Linked DNA regions of Homo sapiens. The protein of the gene in region 1 purifies or fractionates together with the protein of each later gene. This does not show direct contact. Each region holds a gene or a part of one and is shown on either strand. Other genes may lie near its edges.

Evidence for each region.
Region 2: the proteins of CCP110 (region 1) and NEDD1 purify together in Homo sapiens (affinity purification with mass spectrometry; 2 studies listed by BioGRID and IntAct, with this or other methods). This does not show direct contact.
Region 3: the proteins of CCP110 (region 1) and MIB1 purify together in Homo sapiens (affinity purification with western blotting; 2 studies listed by BioGRID and IntAct, with this or other methods). This does not show direct contact.

Annotation. Positions count from the first base shown.
Region 1 is NC_000016.10:19,526,325-19,534,078, reverse strand, and holds part of CCP110 (centriolar coiled-coil protein of 110 kDa), read right to left. Parts: intron 6,213-7,754; 5' UTR 6,198-6,212; coding exon 6,057-6,197; intron 1,664-6,056; coding exon 1,535-1,663; intron 1-1,534.
Region 2 is NC_000012.12:96,910,257-96,918,010, reverse strand, and holds part of NEDD1 (protein NEDD1), read right to left. Parts: intron 5,289-7,754; coding exon 5,194-5,288; intron 391-5,193; coding exon 274-390; intron 1-273. UniProt on the Homo sapiens protein: Required for mitosis progression. Promotes the nucleation of microtubules from the spindle.
Region 3 is NC_000018.10:21,862,455-21,870,208, forward strand, and holds part of MIB1 (E3 ubiquitin-protein ligase MIB1), read left to right. Parts: intron 1-2,071; coding exon 2,072-2,212; 3' UTR 2,213-7,754. UniProt on the Homo sapiens protein: E3 ubiquitin-protein ligase that mediates ubiquitination of Delta receptors, which act as ligands of Notch proteins.

The DNA.
Region 1 (7,754 bases):
TATGTCACATGAGAGTCACTATGACTCTCATTAACAATTCTCTTAATACTACCTCTCAGCCTGCGTCTAGATTGTTCTCTTTCTATATATTCCTTTGACTTTTTCATCAGATTCTGAAGACTCATTACATAGGGATTTCGAGTAACTGAAATGGAAAATCACATGTCAAAGGAAAAAGTAAAGCTTAGGAACTGAGTCACACAAAAACTGCCTTCCTTTTATTCCTAAACAGATAGCTGCAAAATAGAAGGCCACCTATCTACCCAGGTAGACTCTCTTGCAAATTGCTCACAAGGAAATTCCTCGTAGGCCCCAAAATCTTTACACCAACCCAGAGTTCTGCTGAATTTCACTCTGACAAGATACGGACAAAGACCAAAGATGACTAGAAATCATCCCTTTGGAGACAAATGTATATTTGACTTCTTCCTCTACTCTGCTTACTTTATCCTATGTAAAATGCAGATTTATTGAGCTTGAGATGAATGCATAACTGACTGTTCCTCTACCCCCACCTTTCTCATGCGACTTGTGGATTCAGTGAGTGCTAATCAAAGCCTCACAAAAATGTGATCGCTTATCTCATTACCTACCCTCCTTTTTTTTTCTTTCCTCTTTCCCCTCCTGCTGTTCTCTCCCCTTTATACACTGAAGTCCTCAAAACCTCTTCTGGAAAAGCATAAGCCACAGATTCTACTGTAACTTTTGTCTCTTTTTCCTTGGCACATCCTCAACCTTGGCAAAACAAACCTCTAAATCGATTGAGACTTGCCTCAGTCATTTTCTTCAGTTTACACTACCAACAGAGAAATGAACCCTTAAGGTTCATTATACACGTGTCATCGATACGAATTAAACAGACAAACCACAAACTCCTAAGATTATGAAAAAACAAAAAGATGTTACCAGCAGAACACTGCTATATGTTGTAGAAATTATTCGTTCAATCTAATTCATTTGTTTTTCTTTTTAGTACAAAATGATCCACATGTCAGAACAAATTGTTTATACAAATCTAAAAATAACTGCACAAGGTGTAGATGTGTTGTTTAAATAGTTTTTAGACATAGGATGCATCTAAACAATTCAATGTTATCTAAACTGCATTTTGTGTATCTAAGAGTTTTCACCAAAAAAAAATTGGAGGCAGTTATTTACTTAAGCAAAGAATGAGAATAAGGTCATTTAGTCAATAGTCTAATTAGTTTGGGGTAAACAATAATACCCAATTCTGTCATTTTGTCACTGAGAATTCAATGTTTTTAGAGTCATAAGATGCAAACAATAAGCAATTATATTCAGTGTATGGTTCTATTGTGTAAATATCCTCTGATTCAAGTACTGGGCATTACTAACAAGCAAGTACATTCTCTTTGGAGTAACTGAAATGGAAAATCACAAATTATGAAGCTTCTCAAACGTAACAGTAAAGTACATTAGTAATTAGTTAAGTGCAAATATATTTCAGAAAAATTATCATCAACGCTTATCTTATGATTTCTTTATTATAACTGAAACAGCTAAAATCACACACCTGAACATTGTCAAGAATCTCCTGGACACGAGTCAGTAAAGCTTTCTTCCTGTTAACCTGCTTTCTTGCTTCTACATCAAGTGCTTTCTGCTTTTCTTGTTGCATTTCCTTTCTTTTCTCAATGTTAAGCTGCAAAACATCATAAAAATGTAATTATTTCCCACGATAAAAATATCATAAAATCGGGAAGTTGTGAATCAGAAAGATTAAAAACATGTGCAACAGGCAAAACTAATGTATAGTGAAAGAAATCAGAACAATGGTCTGGGTACTGAGTGGGATGGGGCATTAGAGATCTTTCCATGGTGAAGAAAATCCTGTGTGGGTGTGAGTTATACATGTGTATGCCATATATCAAAACTCATGGAACTTTAACACTTAAGATTTGTGCATTTTGCTATGTGTAAATTATTTTCAGTTAAAAGGTTAAAAAGAAAAAAGTTTGTTCACTAATCAAATGTTCTAAAATGACAGAAATAAAATTAAGGCCCTTTTGGCCACTGCTGAGTTTTTTATTACTTCACTTGAATATTGACTTGAATATTACTTCACATTCAGTATCCTTTTTTTTTTTTTTTTGAGATGGAGTCTTGCTCTGTCACCTAGGCTGGAGTGCAGTGGTGCGATCTCGGCTCACTGCAACCTCCGCCTCCTGGGTTCAAGCGATTCTCCTGCCTCAGCCTCCGGAGTAGATGGGCTTACAGGCGCGTGCCACCACGCCCAGCTAATTTTTGTATTTTTAGTAGAGATGGGGTTTCACCATGTTGGTCAGGCTGGTCTCGAACTCCTGACTTTGTGATCTGCCCACCTCGGCCTCCCAAAGTGCTGGGATTACAGGCGCGAGCCACCGCGCCTGGCCCATCTTCAGTATCTTATTTCACTGGATCAACTGGATTCTACAACTTTTAATTTTCTAACCAGTGCACAATTTAACTCTTTGCTGCCTCAAAAAATGTCCAAAGGTTTAATGATAAAATAAACAGATAATATATTATTTGCCTACAAAAGCAGAATACATCTTTTCTTTCACCTCACTCTACCTTCTGATAAAAATATAATGTACCTAAAAAATGGAAGGCTTCTAAGCATTGTATCTCTTTATAATGGATTTCAATCTTAATTATTAAGTCCTGGGAAATTAAATCACTGTTAACAGTCAAGACTTATCGTAGACTTACACAAATAGAAAATATATCATTAAAAAATTATTTCAAAAGTTGCAATATTCACCTATCAAATACAACATAAAAGTGTGGATTAGGTCCATAAACATCACATTTTGCTTATAAATAAATAACAGACGGAGTCATAGACCCTACACAACAAGCCTCAGACATTTTGGTCCACATTAAATCAAGCAATGTGTTATCAAATAGCTGATAAATATGTTGTTTTAAAACTTTTTCCTAATTGCATGGTACCAAAGAATGATTATACAATTTACTTGCTAATCAAAAGGAGAAAATGTGTACTTTAAAGAGCCATCTGGCAGTCACTACTGTAAGCAAGTGTTCAAACTAAACATCACTAATAGAGGGCAACTAAACATTATGTAACTTCTGATTTAATTTAGTATGAAGTGCAGGGCATCATCTCCAAAGAATTCCTTTTTTTTTTGAGATGGAGTCTCAGGTTGGAGTACAGTGGTGCGATCCCGATCCCTCCTGGGTTCAAGCGATTCTCCTGCCTCGGCCTAACGCACAGCTGGGATTACAGGCACCCACCATCATGCCTAGCTAATTTTTATATTTTTAGTAGACAAGGGGTTTCGCCATGTTGGCCAGGCTGGTCTCGAACTCCTGACCTCAAGTGATACACCCATCTCGGGCTCCCAAAGTGCTGGGATTACATTTTTTTTTTTTGAGAGAGGGTCTCACTCTGTTGCCCAGGCTGTTGTGCAGTGGCTCGATCTCGGCTCACTACCTTTGCCTACTGGGTTCAGTGGATCTTGGCTCACTGCAACCTTCGCCTCCTGGGTTCAAGGGATCCTCCTGCCTCAGCCTCCCACATAGCTGGGATTACAGGCATCCACCACCACGCCCAGCTAATTTTTGTATTTTTAGTAGAGACGGGGTTTCGTCATGTTGGCCAGGCTGGTCTCAGCCTCCCAAAGTGCTGGGATTACAGGCATGAGCCACCCCGCCCAGCCCTATCTTCAAAGAATTCCAAAAATCTTTAACCTGTTTATCAAACTTCACTTCCAGTTCATAGGAACTACAGGGACTAGAGAAACAAGTTAAATAACACTATTAGGAAACAATGGGACAAATCCAAGATCTAAGGAATTCTACAAGACAATAGCTCTGGTCTCTTTAAAAATTCAGTATCATAGTTTTGTTATTTTTTTAAAGACAGTATCTCACTCTGTCACCCAGGTTGGAGTGCAGTGGCATGATCAGGGTTCACCGCAGCCTCAGCCTCCCGGGCTCAGGTGATCCTCCCACCTCAGCCTCTAGAGCAGCTGAGACTCCTGGTGCGCGCCACCACACCCAGCTCTTTTTTGTATTTTTTGTAGGGATGAGATTTCACCACGTTGCCCTGACTGGTCTCAAACTCTGGGGATCAAGCAATGCAATCCACCCACCTCAGCCTCCCAAAGTGCTGGGATTATAGGCGTGAGGCACCATGCTCAACCAATAAAAAAAACTGTTTTTAAGACGTACAGTAGCTATTTTAGATTAAAATAAAGAAACATAACAAGCAAATACTAATTGTGAACTTTGGATCCAGATTGGGGGAATAAAGTTATAAAAGGCATTTTGAGCACAAATGGAAAAATTTAAATATGAACAGAATTATTAGATATTATTAAAAATTATTAGTTTTCTTAAGATGTGATAATGGTATTGGGGCTTTACATAGGAGAATGTCCTTATTTTTAAGAGATGTACACCAAAATATTTAGGGGAGCAGTGTCAGGTCTCCGTGGTTTTCAAATAGCTAGGCAATTTTTAAAAATGTCATATGTACACACACACATAGATGTATATAAAAATCACAAACACAATAAAGCAAAGATGACAACAATGTTAAAAATTATTTAATCTAATGGTAAATCTATGGGTGGTCACTGCACTATCCTTTCAACTTTGCTGTATGTTTGAAAGTTTCATTACAAAAAGTTGGCAGTTAGCTCTGGTGTCTTTAAAAATTCAATTCAATTAATTAAAATTAATCTCTTAACTCCTGTTATACCAAAAAATAAATTTAAAGCTCACTTTTTTCTAATATTAGTTTGTGATTTAAAATAAAGTCATATGCATTTTTAAAATATCCAATTAGTATCAAAGGGTGTATGATGAAGTGTCTTCCCTATTATCCTATATTCTCTCACCACTCCCCAGAAAAGGAATAGCCATCCTTTGAAAAACCCAAATGGTTAACTTATATTGGGTACCTCTTATGATCCAGGTGGTATTCTAACCATTTTATATCTACGAATTCATTTAATCTTCAAAATAGCCTTATGAGGTAGGCACTATTTTATCCCCATTTAACAAATAAGAAAATGGACCACAAGTTTACACAGCAAGTAAGTAGCAAAGCAATGATTTGGACCCAGGCCAGAAGGCTCCACAGCCTAGACTTTTTTTTTCCTTCTTTTGGGATAGGGTCTTGCTCTGTTAGCCCAGGCTGGAGTTTTTTTCCTTCTTTTGGGATAGGGTCTTTCTCTGTAGTCCAGGCAATGATGCAATCCTGACTCACTGCAGCCTGCAACTCCTAGGTTCAAGCGATCCTTCCGCCTTAGCCTTTGAAGAGCTGGGACTACAGGCACATGTCACTGCGCCAGGCTAATTTTTTAACATGTTTTTATAGAGATGAGGTCTCACTATGTTGACCAGGCTAGTCTTGAATTCCTGGTCTCAAGCAATCCTCTTCCTTCCGGTCTCTCAAAGCATTGGGACTATAGGTGTGAGCCACTGTGCCTGGCCCAGAGTCTGGACCTCTAATCATGACTCTATACTGCCCCTGACAGCATGCTGCACACGGTGTTTTACACTAGATCATTGAGATCCTTCCATGCCTCAACATTTACATCTGCCTTACTGTAATGGTATGTATGAGAGTTTATAAAATAGACCATAGTTAAACTACTCCACTACTGATGGACATTTAGGTGGTTCGTCAACCTTTGCTATTTTAAACAATGCTAATGTAACTTTGTACTTATTTCTTTGGGCTCACATATAATTGTAGGATATACCCAAAAATGGAACTGCTGACCCAAAGGCTATGTATGCTTTTAAATTCTACCAAACTGCTCATCTAGAAATAAAATAAACTGATTCTCTTAGCAAAAGTGCATTAAAAGTGCATTTTCTCCACAATCTAAGGAACACAAAGTTCTATTAGGTCTTGGCCAATCTATAATAGTAAGTAAAAAATGCTAATTCATTTGTATTTCTCTAATTCTGAATGAGGGCATCTCTTCAAATGTTTATAAGCCTTTCTTTTGTTTTTCCACGAACTGTTTTAGTTGTTCACTACAGAAAAAAACTATTTAAAAACAAAGCAAGTTTACCAGTGGAGAAAGGATAGCCACTCCATGAAAGCGAATAAGTGAGATACTTTCAGACTGAGCAGGGAGAAAGCTCTCTGTGGATAGTGATGCTTCTTGTATTCTGGCAAGACTTTTTTCACAGAACTTCTCATACTCCTCCATCTTCCCACAGTCACACTACAAGAGAGAAAAATGTTATTTTTAATGTACTGGGAAAAACAGATCTTAATTATTTGGCAGATTTTGTAGAGCATGAGAGAGTCCCTATAATTCACAATTCCTATAACTGGTCCTCCCAGAATTGTCTTACTGATCAGGAGCTAATTCTTGGGTATGGTAATTCACCTCAAGAACCTGTCCAATTAAGATTTACTTTATATATTAAATATTTCTGAATATTATTGCATGTAAATCAATCTTTAAATGGGATTAATTTAGCTAAGAATTCAGTAAAACCTTCTTAAAGGAAACAAAGTTCTGTAAATCTTTACTAACTTCACATTGTAAAACAGGATATTATATTTTCTTTAACAGGACTTATCTACACAAGAAAAACTATATCATACAAAGGTACAAACACTGTAGTAAAAAAGCCTACTTAAATCAAAGAATATTTACTTTTAAAAATTTTCTATTTTGAAGTTCAGAGGTTACTCTCATATCTTTTTTTTTTTTTTTAAAGAGACAAGGTCTCACTATGTTGCCCAAACTGGATTCCAGTGACTATTCACAGGTTCAGTCACAGTGCACTATAGTCTCAAACTCTGAGACTCAAGCAATCCTCCTGCCTCAATTTGCCTATCTTAACACTATACTTGGACTGCATGAGCACCAGCCAACTCAGTCAGAGGTAAAAAAGAGCAAATCGATTGGCTCTGATATTAATTATATTTTATTGTTGAAAATTGGAACCATCACCAAACTACTTAAAACAATCCCAGTAATTTCACAGTTTCTGGGAAATTGTGATTATGAAAATACAAGGTAACCAGGAGGGATTAGGCATCATATTCATTCATTTAGCAAACAGTAAATGTTGATTGCTTATTTGCACAGCATTATGTGTGGCACTGTTTCCTTTAAATAAGCAAGGGAAAATAAAAAGACATTATCAGAATCATAACCAGCAAGGGTATGAACTATGGAAACAGAAAATAGAATACAATCATGTTCCTTTATGTCTTCATTTTAAAATAATTAGCTTCTTAACAAAAAAAGAGAGGGCAGGGAAATTCAATTCATGATGTGGGATATGCAAAGATGAAATAGGATATGTCCTCGGTAGGCCTCAAAGTACTTAAAAATTCAGTACACCAAAGTATCAGGGACAAATTATAGTGCAATGAGAAATGGGAAAAAAAAAATAGTCAAAATTATAATCAGGTTATAAAAAAATAAGATATAATGCTATTTTTTCTAAATAGTTTAATCAATAACAAAACTTCTTCCTACTATTCAATCAATTGTAATTATTTGTGTTCAATCTATGCAAAGTAGGAATCTAATGACAAACAAATGGTTCTCTACAGTGTGAGTGAGACTATTTTACAAGCTTTTATTTATTTTAAAAAAGCAAAAGTAAAAACAATAAAACACCTTAAGGCATAGCCTTTTTTTAGGTCTAGGTTTCAACTCACATTATTTCTTAACCCCATTTCTGCTCAAATATTTTATTTTTTTAATCATGCCATGCATTCAGCAATACACAGAATGTAAATA
Region 2 (7,754 bases), on another chromosome or scaffold:
GTGAAGTGGTTCATTCAAATAAGAGTAGAACTAAATAAAAAACAAGAAAAAAGTTGTAAATGTTGATCATATGCATTAATGCTACACATGTAAGAAAAAAGACATAAAAATAAGTTTTTGGCTAAATAGCACCTTTATTTTCCCTAACAAATCTTAGTTCAATTCTGAAGCCTCTTATTTTTATCATAAAAGCTCAAAAATAAAAGCTTGGTAAGTACTCTAAATGCATTAAGATATCCATTTTTTCATGAAGATTTTTTTTAAATTGCTTACCTTAAGAGATCGATGAACTCTTTTTGATTTTAAATCCCAAATATTAACAGTGTTATTTAGGCCTCCGCTTACCAAATACATAGATGTAGAATTTAAATTGACACATGTCTGCTTTTGCTATTTAAAAAAAAAAAAAAAAGTTACCTTAATTTAACAGAGCCCAGAGCTGACTTTCAGGTCTCATCCAACACTTAGTAAGCATATGATAAATATTGGTTAAATTAAATACTATAAACATGCTAATCTTGTACTAAAGAGCCACTCTCTCATCGTCTTTCTTCCACATGGATCCAACAGCTTTTAAGGGGGTCAAAAATGCTTCAAGGAAATCAAATAGATTTGCATTCACTTCTGTGGACCGGTGACGACACAGGAAGCTTAGAAAACACTGGCAGTCCTGGTCTCCCATCAGGGCTTGTTTGCCCATCCTATCTCCTCTTGATAAAGCCTGCTCTTGTATTTCCACAGAATATCCTACATTAAAATCAATCCCCAGCTCAAAAATGCTAAAAATAGAAGAGACTTTAAAAGAATTTCCAGTGTACAGCCCTCATTTTACCGATGGGATAAGTTTTTTTTTAAAGAAGTCAAGATACTTGCCCTAAGTCTTCCAGCAAATCTCCGTTAAGGAGACCAAGTCTCAGACATCAGGTCATCAAAGCCTGACTTCAACTGTTCCCCATCTCTGTAAAGACACCATCCAGTTTCTCAAGATAAAAACCCAGAATAACCCTTGATTTCTTGTTCTCCCTCCCCTCCAATCTATCAGTAAGCTCTCTAAACTCCAACCCAAGAATGAATCCCACATGGGCTCCCCTTTATCTATAGCTACTACTAACACTAACCCAAACCTTACCAAACTACGACAGCAGCTTCCTAACTGGTTTCCCTGTTTCCACTCCTGCTCTCCTATATTCCATCCTTCATAAGTAGGGTGGACTTTAAAAATGTAAATCAGATCATGTCTCCTTCCATACCCAAATGACTATAAATCATGCTGCTATAAAGACACATGCACACGTATGTTTATTGCGGCATTACTCACAATAGCAAAGACTTGGAACCAACCCAAATGTCCAACAATGATAGACTGGATTAAGAAAATGTGGCACATATACACCATGGAATACTATGCAGCCATAAAAAATGATGAGTTCATGTCCTTTGTAGGGACATGGATGAAATTGGAAACCATCATTCTCAGTAAACTATCGCAAGAACAAAAAACCAAACACCGCATATTCTCACTCATAGGTGGGAATTGAACAATGAGATCACATGGACACAGGAAGGGGAATATCACACTCTGGGGACTGTGGTGGGGAGGGGGGAGGGGGGAGGGATAGCATTGGGAGATATACCTAATGCTAGATGACGAGTTAGTGGGTGCAGCGCACCAGCATGGCACATGTATACGTATGTAACTAACCTGCACAATGTGCACATGTACCCTAAAACTTAAAGTATAATTTAAAAATAATAATAATAATAATAATAATAATAATAAATCTTCAACGGCTTCCAATCACACCAAGAATAAACTCCAAACATTTACCTGGCTTTCAAAGTCCTATTATTTGGGCCCTACCTCATCTGTTACCATTTTCTTCCTCATCCACTAATTCTCCAGCCATACTGACCTTCCATTCCTTAAATATACAACCCTATATTTGCCTCAAGGCTTCTACACAGCTATTCTCCTTGCCTAGAAAGCTAAATTCACTGAACCCTGTTTGGAAGACTTTCTGGTCAACAGATATCAACTTAAGTGCCACCACACTTCAAGGGACCTCCATTGGCTACCTAATGTAACTTGCTATCACAATATCTTATTTTAGTTATCTGCATGATAACTTACCAATATCTGGGTATTTTTTGTTTACTAGTTTACTGCCTGTCCCCCGCCAGAATGTCAGTTTCACTAGCACAAGGCCCATATCCATGCTCCATCTTTATAGAATGGCTAAAATACAGATGTTGTCAAGTTCTTCTCAGTGAGTATCTTTGAGTGTCACCAATTTGGTGGTGCCATCAGTAACTATGCTATACAGAACAGTGTTGCATTTTTTTCCTAAGTAACCTTTAGATGCACTACGAAGTCACATTAGTTGGAACTTCCACAGTGCATCCTTGGATTCTTCAAATTCAAAGGAGACATTTCATGACTTCAAGAAAAGTTAAAAGGCAAGCTATGTAGGTTTAGGCAAATCATCTCACCTTTCTGAGCCTATGCTTCTGCATTTGAGAAACGAAAGGTGAAGACTAGATCTACTGTTCTTACTTTGAGAATCCATGCTTCTCAGAAATATCCTCTGCTCAAAAGAGATTCTTTAAAGGGTGCATATGATCCCCTTCCTCTAGCCCTTCCCCCATTGCACGTTCAAATACTATAAACATGCTAATCTTGTACTAAAGAGCCACTCTCTTACTGTCTTTCTTCCACATGGATCCAACGGCTTTTAAGGGGGTCAAAAATGCTTCAAGGAAATCAAATAGATTTGTGTTCACTTCTGTGGACCCCAGGGTTCCTTCTAGCTCTAAAATTTTGACCAAGAGTATCAACTAACATATAAAAATAGCAAGATGCACACAACATCAATGTTTCAGTATAGTTGCTGTAATTCTCCTGCAGATACCATTCTAGGAATTGACTTTAGTTGAGGGAGACTAAGAAGCTTTAGAATCTGGTTGTCACTGCAAATCAGGACAGTTTGCTAAGAACTATCAAAACAGCCTTTAAATAAAATAGAAAAAGATGGTGTCCATTGAAGATCAATATATTGGGACTCCAATCATCACAACAACTACAATTACTCTTAAGGGCTCAAAATAAAAATTATATTTAGAGCTGGCTAACCCTGTTGATAGGTCTTTTTTATGATAATGTATTATTAATGCAACTAATGAACTTAAATAATTAATGGAAATTGTGTGGTTATTACAGGAATCCTGAACTGCTCAAGGTGCAAGGCAAAGGTACATTCTACTTTAAAGAGGTGAAATACAAAATCAAAGAAAATAAATATGAACTTAAAGTTCTACTCTAAAATTTTAAAATCAGTAAGATCATAATTTATTTTCTCAAGTAGAAAAGGTCTAATGCCTCAAATAATACACGAGTAAGAGGACTTGGAAGTTACAAAAAGGTTATTAGCACATTAATATGTTTCTGTAAACATTACTAGTAAAAGCTAAAAAACCAATGTTTCCAAATATTTTCATAACTAAATTAAAATAGATTGAAAATTTGAACTCAACTAATCTTACTTTTATCCAACAGCATTATGATACAATTTGTTAACTATGGGAAAGAGGGCTAAGAATCATAGCAACTAATTTGGAATATTCACAAAACTCTTAGAATTATGTCACACTTGTAAATACCATCTGTTATTTTTATACTTTAAAAAAAAAGCTCCCAAATACTGATTCACTGATCCTAAGGCATAATGCATAACAGTAGTACATATATATAGTGGTAGAGTAGAAGTTGAAATTGTTTTGATGTTGACATTAACAAGTTTTTTGAACATCTTAGGATACAAAGATCCAAAGATGGTTAAGATGTTTTGCCTGCTCTTGAAGACTTCAGTCTGCCTTTATCGACCAGAGACATTCTATGCCTTGATTCTGCTTAAGTCAGGTTAAACAGAGTGCCTCAAACTCCATTTCTACTGTTAGCACATGTTCCCTCTGTCCCAGTCTCCAACATCTGTGGGTTAGAACTGAAGTTCAGGTCAATCCCACTGGATACCTTTAGGAGAGGATTGATAAAAATCATGAGTCCTCTTTAAATTAGTTGAGCTTTTATTCAGTTGTCCTGCTGTTTTCTTTCTAATTGGGCTACTTTACCTATCCCAGTGTGTAAAATTATGACAATTCATAATAATTTAAGATCTGCTAGAAAAACTTTGAAATTAAAAAAAAAAGCTATCAACTACCATATCTTTTTATTTAAATCTTATCTTATTTAAAAAAGAAATAGCTTTCAAAGAGTGTGTGACTAGAAATGAAGAAGCCAGTATTATCCTTAATCAGAGGGATTAACTTATAAAACAAAAGGATAGGCTGGGTGTGGTGGCTCATGCCTGTAATCCCAGCACTTTGGGAGGCTGAGGCGGGCGGATCATGAGGTCAGGAGTTCAAGACCAGCCTGGCCAACATGGTGAAACCCCGTCTCTACTAAAAATACAAAAATTAGCCAGGCGTGGTGGTGGGCACCTGTAATCCCTGCCACTTGAGAGGCTGAGGCAGGAGAATCGCTTGAACTGGGGAGGCGGAGGTTGCAGTGAGCTAAGATTGCACCATTGCACTCCAGCCTGGGCAACAGAGCGAGACTCCATCTCAAAAGAAAAAAAAAAAAGGATAAGGCAACAGTACGTAGTGAGAGCTTCATTTAAACGCCCTGGGACCTAAGCTCATTTTGACAAAGCCAACCTGTTTAAGGAGAGTATGGGGGAGGCTCAGACAGGCCCCTCAGTACAGGTGGACAGAATCTGAAGCAGAGAGCTACCATCAGCTGTGAGTCTGTTCCTGATGGTCCTGAGCCCAAGATCAGTAAAGCAGTGCTGTGTCATTAGAGTTTATATGCTCAGGTCAACCTAGTAACCTATGTGGGATATCGTCCTAAAATAGCAGCAACAGAGATCCTCTCCCACTGAGGGAAAATGGAGAAATGAAGTGCCTAGTCAACAAAATTCAAGTCTTCAATTGTTCCCCTATATTCAAAACTATTTTACCTAAAAATACTTTAGTAAGTACACATATCTCATTTTTAAGTGTTACTATATTATTTTGAGCTTAAGTTAAAAATAATGCTTTTAAAAACCTTTATATTTAGTCGCAAGCACCACAATAAGCAATTGCCAGTCAAGCAAAACTAAGATTTTTAAAAGTTTAAAAAAAAAAAAAATCACTTACCCCTTCAGCAAGCTCTAAAAGTGGAACAGGTTTACATTTGCAACTTGAGACAACTATTTTGTCGCCACTGGAAGATGCTGTTACTAAAAAGTTATCTAAATGAGGAGTTATGGAGCATCAAACAATCCATGAACATCTATAGCACTAGACTATTATAAGAATTGCGATTATAAAAGCTAACACACTAAGAAGACAAGCAATGAGTATAGCTTACAGAGTAGCTTTCAAAAATGGCTCACATTACTATTAATAATTACTAAGACTAATTCTCTTTGCTACTACTGCAGGGAAGAACTAGCCTTCTTTCTGGCTCTGCTATCACTCAAAAGCTATTTAACCCACGTGAAATACTACTCTGTTTTCAAAGAGTAGGCCAGAAGGGCTAATTTTATCCTTCAAGAATGAGAGCATGATAAAAGCAGCATCAGCAAATATCAATCAACCTTTTCATCTACAGAAACTGTTCAAGATATTTATTAACCTAGTGCTTGGTAACAATCTAAACTAGGAAGCAAACATCCACACTAGTCTCCTATTTTTCTATTTAAAAAAAAAAAAGGCCTGATATTTTCCCAGAACATGAATTTTTGTGATAGAATGTTTCAATCTTAAATTAAGAATGACTATTACAGTAACTTGCAAATATTTTATAAATATGTATGGTTAAATAGGAATTGTGTTATGAGTTTTAATTTTTAAATAAAATGTAATTTTATTTACCTTCTTTTACACGAATTGTAAATGGAACAATCAGTAAACACAAAACAGTAACTATTTTAAAACTAAAATGATTAAATACAATAATATAACTAAGAATAAGAGTCTGATTTTGAGAGCCATAACAAATTAAAATATCAGAAGTTTAAATCTGTGCTTTTTAGCAATTAAAATCTGTGAGTAAAAGCAATGGAGAAAGGTTAATTAGACACTCAGAATCCCTAACTGCATTAACTTTTGAATGTTCTGTATAACTTTCAGGTATTTTGTAAACAGAGCATAGACTGTAATTTTATTATGATACATGATGCAAATCAAATCATTCCTACCTAGATATTACCATAGCGAGAAAAACCATTTCCCTTTCCTTGACTTCTTCCTGTTTACCACTACTTTTCTCCTTAGAATATAGAAAAAAAAGGACTGAAACATAATGTGGGTGGGTAATCTAGTTCTTTTTTATTTCTCTTGTAGTTTTAGAAATCATGAGAAAGTGAGGAACGTAAGTTAAAGGACAAGAAACAAAAAACTAATCTCTCTGGTGTCTCACATTAACCCCATTCTTGGAATCTATACTATGTGGACCCCAAGTTGCTAAGGCTGGGAACTCCTTGTTCTTCAGTAATTAACCTCCATGGAAGTGATCAAAGCCTTATTAAGAATAAGACTGTATGAAGGCTTTCAGTGCACATCTGCTCATGCAAGAAAACTGTAAGACCAATTTCCAAAAGTCATACAACACTATCTCATAGCTACATCAGTTTTGTTGTTAGACTATTAAGTAGCACATCAGTAAATGCCAACTCCTAGTAAAACTTAAAACAAAAGTCAACCAAAAAATAATCTTACTACAAATTGCTACCTTTCTCTTATATAGTAAGAGGGAAAATTAAGCTCTAAACATAATGAAAATCTAAAAATAGAGAACAGCAACTTCATATACTTGTCGCTCTCTTTAAAATATTTTCCCTATTACACATCTGGAAAGTCCTTCAAAAATGTAGTCACTTCACCATGAGTTTGATTAACAGAGTACCAAAGTAATTTGTTTTACTGCAAAATCAAGGAATGATAAGGAGGTAAATTTAATTCAGTAAGAAAATTTGTCCTTCTTGTTATATACATGCAAGAATAGTAAGTCATATAAAACTTTTAATATTTTTGTTCCTGAACCAGTCACATTTTAAAGCTTTGATTTTTTTATCAGAAAGTAGAATACTTTGGTGTTGATAAAAATCAGATAAATGTTAAATCTTAATTTGTTAAGAAATAGCGTATGAGTTTCACAAAAGAAAATTTCTAACATACCAATTACATAAAACATTTTCACATAAAAGGTGATAGGAGCACTGTGGTCACAGCAGTGGTTCTCTACTGGGAGTGATTCAGGCAATTCTGGAAACGTTTTGGGTTGTCACAACTAGAGGCTATTGGTACCTAACGGGTGAAGACCAATAAACCTCCACGTGGTACAACATACAGGAAAGGTCCACAACAAATTTTCTGCCCCAAAAAGTCAATAGCACAGGGTTCAGAAACCCTAGTTTACAGTCTTCACTCCCTCATTTTATTTTATCCACATTGAGGAGCTCACCAAGACAGGGAAGGTGTCAATCAGAAACATAAAAAGCTTAGAAAAGTTCAATCTAGGTAACTTTACTATGTCTGTTTAGGAAATGTAATTTTCATCACACACACAGAGAGGAAGGAAGATATGGAGAGTACATTAGTAAGATGGAGATATTGGGCAATTTTTTATCTCCTCCCCAACTTGCTTCTGCCTTCAAGTTCTGTCTTTAATTTTCAGTTCAGATCCACAAATACCCAAATGTAGATGCAAAAAC
Region 3 (7,754 bases), on another chromosome or scaffold:
GAAGTATTATACATTAAGGCAAATATGATTTTATAAATGTAAAATGTGTTTTGTGAATAAATAGTATTTCAGACATATACCTGACATACTTTTACATTCTTTCAAGTTCATGAAATTTACATTTATTAATATGTAACTAAGGCTAATTTGTTTTAATTCAGGGGAATCTACATTGATAGTAATACAGTGCAGCACAGTGTCTAAGAGCAAGAACTTTGGGGCCCTGAGTTGGTTCACTCTAGGGCTTGCTTTGAGGAAGGTTTTCAATCCCGCTGAGCCTCGTTTTCCTCATTTTCCAAGTGGGAATGATACCAGGACTGAGATTGTATCCTATCTAAGCATAGTGCCTGACAAGTGTTCTCAGCTACTTCTCAGCACTGCTCCCCACCCTGCACCATGTATTGCATGATACATTGCCTTCTTTTTATGCAAGAGCAGCTGAGTACCTAGATTCAGGGAATTTCAGTTAGACTGAATGGAGCTATTTTCATCCATTTCCTATTACGTTTTGGTTTATATAGGTTTTTTTGTTTGTTTGTTTTGAGACAGAGTCCTTGCTCTGTCGCCCAGGCTGGAGAGCAGTTGATGCAGGATTTTTCTCAACCCCTTTGTCATACTTGCGACAGAGGTGCGCTGCTTACTTGGCCACTGTGCTCAACTGTTTGCGGGAGGGAGCACATGAACGAGCAATTGCAGGATCCATGCAGCGGCACCCAGGTGGGGGTGCCTGCGACTCCAAAGCCCCTGAGGGCATGTTAGAGTGCTCTCTTAGTTCTGCCGTCCACGGACAGCGGTGTGTTATCAGCTCAGTTGGCCCCTTGCCTCATAGTGTGGGGTAGCTGCCCTCCGCCAGTGAGGGCAAAGGGCCAGTGTAACAGCCTTATTTTGGGTACCCACACTCGGTGTGTCCCGAGCTCTTGTCCAGTGTTCAAGAAGAATGAGGTCACCTGGACACTTGAAGGATGGTGAAGGCAGAGAGTTTTATTAAGTGATGGAAATGGCTCTCAGCAGAGAGGGGAACTGGAGTGGGGGTGGGACGGGTAGGTAATCTTCCCCTGAAGTCCGGCCATCTCTTCCCTGAAGTTAAGCCATCTCTCCTCCGAAGTCCAGTCATCCCTTTGAAGTCAAGTTGCCTCTCTCCCCTCTACTACCTGGGTCTGGAGTCTTTAAAGGCACAACATGGGAGGAGTGGGCAGGGTGGGCTGTGGGTAGTTTTGGAAAAGGCAACAATCGATTGGTAAAAAGACATTATTTAGAAAGAACCAGTTGGGCTGGGCGTGGTGGCTCATGCCTGTAATCCCAGCACTTTGGGAGGCTGAGGTGGGCAGATCACGAGGTCAGAAGATCAAGACCATCCTGACCAACATGGTGAAACCCCATCTCTACTAAAAATACAAAAAAATTAGCTGGGTGTGGTGGTGCGCACCTGTAGTCCCAGCTACTCAGGAGGCTGAGGCAGTAGAATCACTTGAATCCAGGAGGCGGAGGTTGCAGTGAGCCGAGATTGCGCCACTGCACTCCAGCCTGGCGACAGAGTGAGACTCCATCTCAAAAAAAAAGAAAGAAAGAACCAATTGGGAGAGAGTGGGCAAGCAGGAATAGAAGTTCTCACTTTGGCCTGTGGGTTTCAGGCTTTTCAGCTCAAAGGTTGGGTTTCACTGGGGACCCACCCTTGTCTGCCTAGAATTTCTCTGCCTCCTGCCTCTATCACAGCGGCGCGATCTTGGCTTACTGCAATCTCTGCTGCCCGCGTTCAAGTGATTCTCGCGCCTCAGCCTCTTGAGTAGCTGGGATTACAGGTGTGAGCCAGGGTGTCTGGCTGTGTTTTATATATTAATAGTTTTTAATCTTATGTAGTACCTTTCATACTATCCTGATAGTACAACCAGTGTTTCTATTTTATTTTATAGGGATGACATTTTAACTATTTAAAAATGTTAAAAAATTGTTTTTAAAAACCACCAAAATATTATTTGACTAAAACAACTAAAGAAAATTAATGATATATAACAGTCTGTCACTTTCCAAATATAAAGTGTCTAATTTATTACTTTGTTATCTCACATTACAGACAATGTGCCCTGTGTGTCTAGATCGTCTGAAGAATATGATTTTCCTTTGTGGTCACGGAACCTGTCAACTCTGTGGAGACCGCATGAGTGAATGTCCTATCTGTCGCAAGGCTATTGAACGAAGGATTCTTTTGTATTAACTAAGACACATGGTGTATTTTGTTAGCTAATGTATCTAGTCATGAGATCTTAATAGGCTTTTGATCTAGTTGGAAGTTCTGATGAGTTAATTTCTAATATCATAGTTTCTTTACTAGAGTATAATTGGGCTGTAAATGTACCAGAACAAAAAACCCTACAAAATGGTGTTGGAAATTGTGTTTTTTGTTTTTGTTTTAAATTTGAAACATCAAATTCATGTAACTCATAGGATAATTTACCTTTGGCTTCTAAGAGGAAAGTCCTTTAAGGATATCCTTTTTTAAAAAATTGCATTTTTCTCTTATAATTTGTAAATTTGTTGGATCTCAAAAGACATAATTCTTTGTGATCAGTTATCCTTCATTTCATCGTGGTTTTACACAGTGAGTTGATAACAGGTTCTCTGAGAAGTCATGCATCAAATAAAAGAGGCAGGTCAAACAATTATGTCACATGGTAAATTATAAAATGACAGTACAAGTTCCAGATAGTTAAGGGAATACCGAAGGGATGATTCTTTTTTTAAGATAACAGGAAGTTACCCACATGTTTGTTTCTGAATTCTTAGAGTAAATGGAAGCATAGAATGAGGGAATAATGACTTTGCATTTCTCTTGTTTTCTAGATTCAAAAGGAACATTGTTTAACTTGAATCAGATTACCAGTTTCAAGGTGACTGATAGACAAGAAAAGGAAAAATAAGCAATAATAGTGGGCAACTGAAGAGAAAAAAAAAACGAGTATCTATTAACTGGCCACTAACAGTTGCCTTTCTTACATTAATTTATACACTATTTTGTTCAGCCAGTGTTTTTAAAAAAAATCTATGAAAAGTGTACTTCCGGTTTTCTGTGATTACTTATCTGGGCTTGATCTGACCAGTGAAATGACATTGCCCTATTTGGACCTCTGAGGTTCTATTTAGCTTTGCAGATGTACATAGTATCCCAGTGATCTGCAAAATTAATGCCTTTTCCAAGAAAAAATCTTTTCTTCTCTGTATCAGTTAATTCTGACAGTGTTAGTGATTCTGTCTTCATTATAGGCCTTATTTCCATTATCTCTTTCTTTATAGTATTTTTTGTTATAAAGAAAACAGTCTTTCTGTGTATACCTACGGATGAGGGTATTATTTAAACTGCCAACAATATCCAAGACATGGTCAATAACCTAATTATAAATACTTTAGAAAGAGTGACCAGGACATGTATAGAAATGTCTGCTTACCTGTAGACTTTAAAAACAAACAAAATTTTTGGAGCATTTAATCATTTTTTTTCTCCTTTTATCTCCTTTGTAATCTTATTGTCTCCTGAGTAAATATACACATAAATGTTTGGGGATTCATTGCTGCTAGATTATATCAGGTGTTTACATAGTGTCTACTATATGCTGTTGATAAGCTTTTTCCTAAAAATAGTTATCCTCTTTTGTAGTTTTTTTCCCTCCTTTAAATCTGGCTAGCTTTTCTTACTTCAGTTTTTATAGAACACCAACTAAATTTGAAAGTATGAAGTCTCTAGCCCTCTTACACTGTTTCTGGCTGTTTAATCCTTGCTGCCTTTGCAAGTCCTGGTGAAAGCAATGGGGAGCTTTGCTGGCTGGTTTTGTAGTCTCAACAATTCCATGTCTGTGTTTAGCTGAGTAACTGCTATCATTTAGAACAGTAAAATTTTTATAGATTTCAAATTTGAAAATTCATGTACACTCAGTTATCTAATAAGGGGCCACCGACGCTGTTTTTAAAACTATTTTGAAGTTATAAAAAGGTAGAACATCTGACTGATGATGTTCACATAAAGAGACAGACAGACTATCATGTTGCAGACATGAAAACAGCATGTCAGGTTTTTCCTTTCCTTCCATGCCATGGGCTACCCATCTCTTCCCACTAGATCACCTGGTGAGGAGGGAGCACCTGGCTGACTCATGCAGAGTTTGGCCAATCAGAGAATTGTGTGGTCTCCAGCTCTACTTTCCTTAAACAAATCCTTTCTGTTTTCTGAGCTGCAGTGCTAAAACAGATCCCTAAAAGGTAATAGCATCTTCCAGACTAGTTTAATTATTTCCTTTATAAGAATATGACATAAATTTTTATTATAGAAATAATGTCATTATAATTTTAGTGCTAGTACTTGTGGGTTTTCTGTATTTGTATCACCTTGAAATTTGTTCCATGAATAGAAAATACTTCTTTATTCATGTTTTCAATCACTTAGAATTATTTTAAATTTATTTTGGGTTTGTGAGAGATAATAAGATTAAGAACTTCATCATTTCAGTGACTTTCCTCCAACTCTCTGAATCTGCTACCTCTTATTATATGTCCCTTAGCAGTACTTTTCCAGTTAGGTTCGTTACCCTGCTCATTAGCTAAACCTCTTTATCTTGTGCCTCAAAAGAGCTTTTACTTTTCTTAGAAACATTTATAAAAAAGAAAAAAACTGACACGCATTCATTCAAAAAAGTATTTATTGGGCTTTAGGGATTAGATACACAACAGTGGAAAAATGGCATCTTAGCACACTCAGAATTTATTGTGCAGCAGTTGTGTATTTTAAGGAATCTGTAGTTAAAAGGAAGAGATCCAAAGGTCCTGATAACATTTCCTAACGTTTCAGAAGAGTTGTCATTGAGTAGTGTTTGGATTTCCTCTCTGTATCCCTCACCCTACCATTTTCTCCTTTATTCTTCTAAGATTGTTAGCGTTGTTACTCAAAACATACACATACAACATACCAGATGGTGCTGTTCTAATGGTATTTGTTCACGTAATTTAACGTTCTTACTGCTTATACTATATACATATTTAATTTTGTTGGGAGCAAGAAGGTTTTCAAGAAAAGATAATTTTGTATTAGTGTAGGAATATATTAGACAAATGTTTAGTTGGTCAAATTATGCATAAGATATTTGTAACTTTAAACATTGCAAATTGACCAGCTAGCTATGGAAGCATAAAATTAATTGATAATTAATGTTGGAAATACATTTCTAAAATTTATATTTTTATGGTGTTAGCCTGTAAGAGCATTTTAGCATATTGAAATGCATGCTGCTTAAGATGTGTCTGGTTCAAATATCAAAACTTGCTGGGTCATTTTTACATAGTAGAAACATACTGTCTATGTGTTGCCCAATTGCTGTTTGTCCACTCTGAATTCTGGACCCTTTTTGGACTAAGAATTAGTTAAATTCATGAACTAAGAGAATTAGAGATGGGGTAGAGTAGGATCAGGACAGTGGGGTTACAACAGATAGGAAAGGAAAGTCAGCATTTGAGTGTAGAGAAAAAAAGAGGATCATACAGATGTCATCAAATTATAGGCTTTAATACAGGTTGCTTTTTTTAATCCAAAAGGAAAAGCACTTATCCTATCAGAATGTCTACCATGTTTTATAGTAATAATTTGTGTAAAAAATTGAATTTTTGAATAGTTTTTTGTATTTTTTGTGATGAAAAACTCATAACATAAAATTTACCATATTAACTGTTTCTAAAGAATACAGTTCAGCCATGTGAAGTACATTTACACTGTTGTGAAGCAGATCTCCAGAACTTTTTCATCTTGCAAAACTGAAACTCCATACCCATTAAACAACTCCCCTTTTTGTTTTCTCCTCAGTGGAATAGAATTTTGACTCCATATAAATCAAGAAACACCTAAATTCTTTAGTTGTTTGTGTTTGCAAGATCTAAGGTCATGGTAAACATTAAGTTCTTAAAATTTTTGGGAGGGACAGTGCACCTCTCCTCTGAATTGTTAGCAATTAAATTGAGTAGGTTTTAAATGTCTATTCATTGGAAGGGTTTGTTATTTCATTTTGAGCCAGAGGGGAGAGGCACATTTTAAATATCAGAATTAGATTAGCTTTGAGTTTGTACAATTGGGAACATAATAGATTTTCATAAATTATGTGTGCCTTGTTGGAAGTGTCAACTGTCTTTATGTCTGCTTGTAAAAGTTTCAAAATATGTTTTCCCTCAAAAAGGCAACGTTACTTCATTTGCTTGAATATTATGATAGGAATGCTTACTGATATTACTTGATAGTCATATATAGCCTAGGAAATTTAACATATATATAACTATAGCAGTATTAATAATGATAGTTGTACTTCTTTAAAACATTAAATTTGAGGAAACTTTAATGCTGTCTCGTGTACATTGCTTTACTACAGTGAGGGGGAATATCCTTTAGATTGAGCCTCAATTTACTGGTTAGTAGTATGTGAAACTCTGGTATAAAAACGTAAACTAGACAGTAGAGCCGATGAATTAAAATTGTAAATTGCTACATTGGCATTTTCTACCTCCTTTTCTGTCAGAGTATTACTTTTTCCAGCATTTATTCTTATTTGTGAGTAAAGAGGAAATGGGAACCTGAGGTTAAAATTGACATTTTTGTTTCATTGAGAATTTAAGCAGTAGGTACAGGAGAAGTGACTTGTCACATTAATTTGGTGCCTAAATCTGTAACTACAAGTTGTGATCGACATGTACAAAATGTCTAAGAAAGGTCATATGCTGAATATTTTACTTTTCCTGTATAGTCTGCATGATTTGTTTCATAAACCCAGCTTATTTCCTCCAAAAAGCAAAATGGTCCTGTAATTTTTAAAGTAAAATAAACGTGCCATTTTGTCTGCAATCTATAATTTCAGGAAGTTATTGAAAGTTCTGACTCAGGGCTTTTTAACAGTTCAAGCAATTGTCAGTTATATTTTGGAAACTCCATCTGTGTAATTCTCCAGTGCCTTGAAAGAATTATTAACTTGGCAACACTATTAAAACTTTATAAAAGATGGTCTTTAGTGCACGTGTATCATTATATACACGTTTTAAAGTCATATTGCTTAGCTTGTTAATAATGATTCTGCATGTGTGCTGGGTTTGGGTAATTCTTTAAAGGAAGTTTTCTAGATTTGCACTTGATGTTTGTTTTTTAAAAACTGATTATTTATGGCCGTGACACTGTTACCAGAAAAGTAATTCTAATTAAGTTATTATGCAAAGTCATCTATAAGTAGCATCTGGGAAGAGGAGATCGAGGCCACAGTTTGCTATTTTAGTATGAAAGGAGGATCTGTTTGGGAAACATAGATTGTCTTCCCCTCAAATGAGGGGAAAAAAAAAAGACCCTTTGTTCAAATGGATTCTGTTGTAAAAAATTATTTTTAAAGGAAATCACAAATTGTATGTCATTCTTAATGCTAGTCTTATAGAATAAATCCATAAAATTGTTTTTATGTTCAGTATGTTTATGTCATTCTAAATGCAGCAAATTCAATGATAGCAGTTCAATTGACTCATAGCAGTGTTTTGTATTTTTTCTAATTCTTTAGCTTTCAATATTGGATTAAAGTCTTGTTTGTGAATATAGTTTCCGTATGGCAAATGATTTCTTGCTTATTAGCTTTTGTTAAAGAATGCTTAGTAAGAGCTAAGCTTTTAAAAGTAATGCAAACATTTATCGTTAATAAAACCTATGGTGTAATATCATATAATGCTTTTCTTTGATCTTTGGAGAATTATTCTTT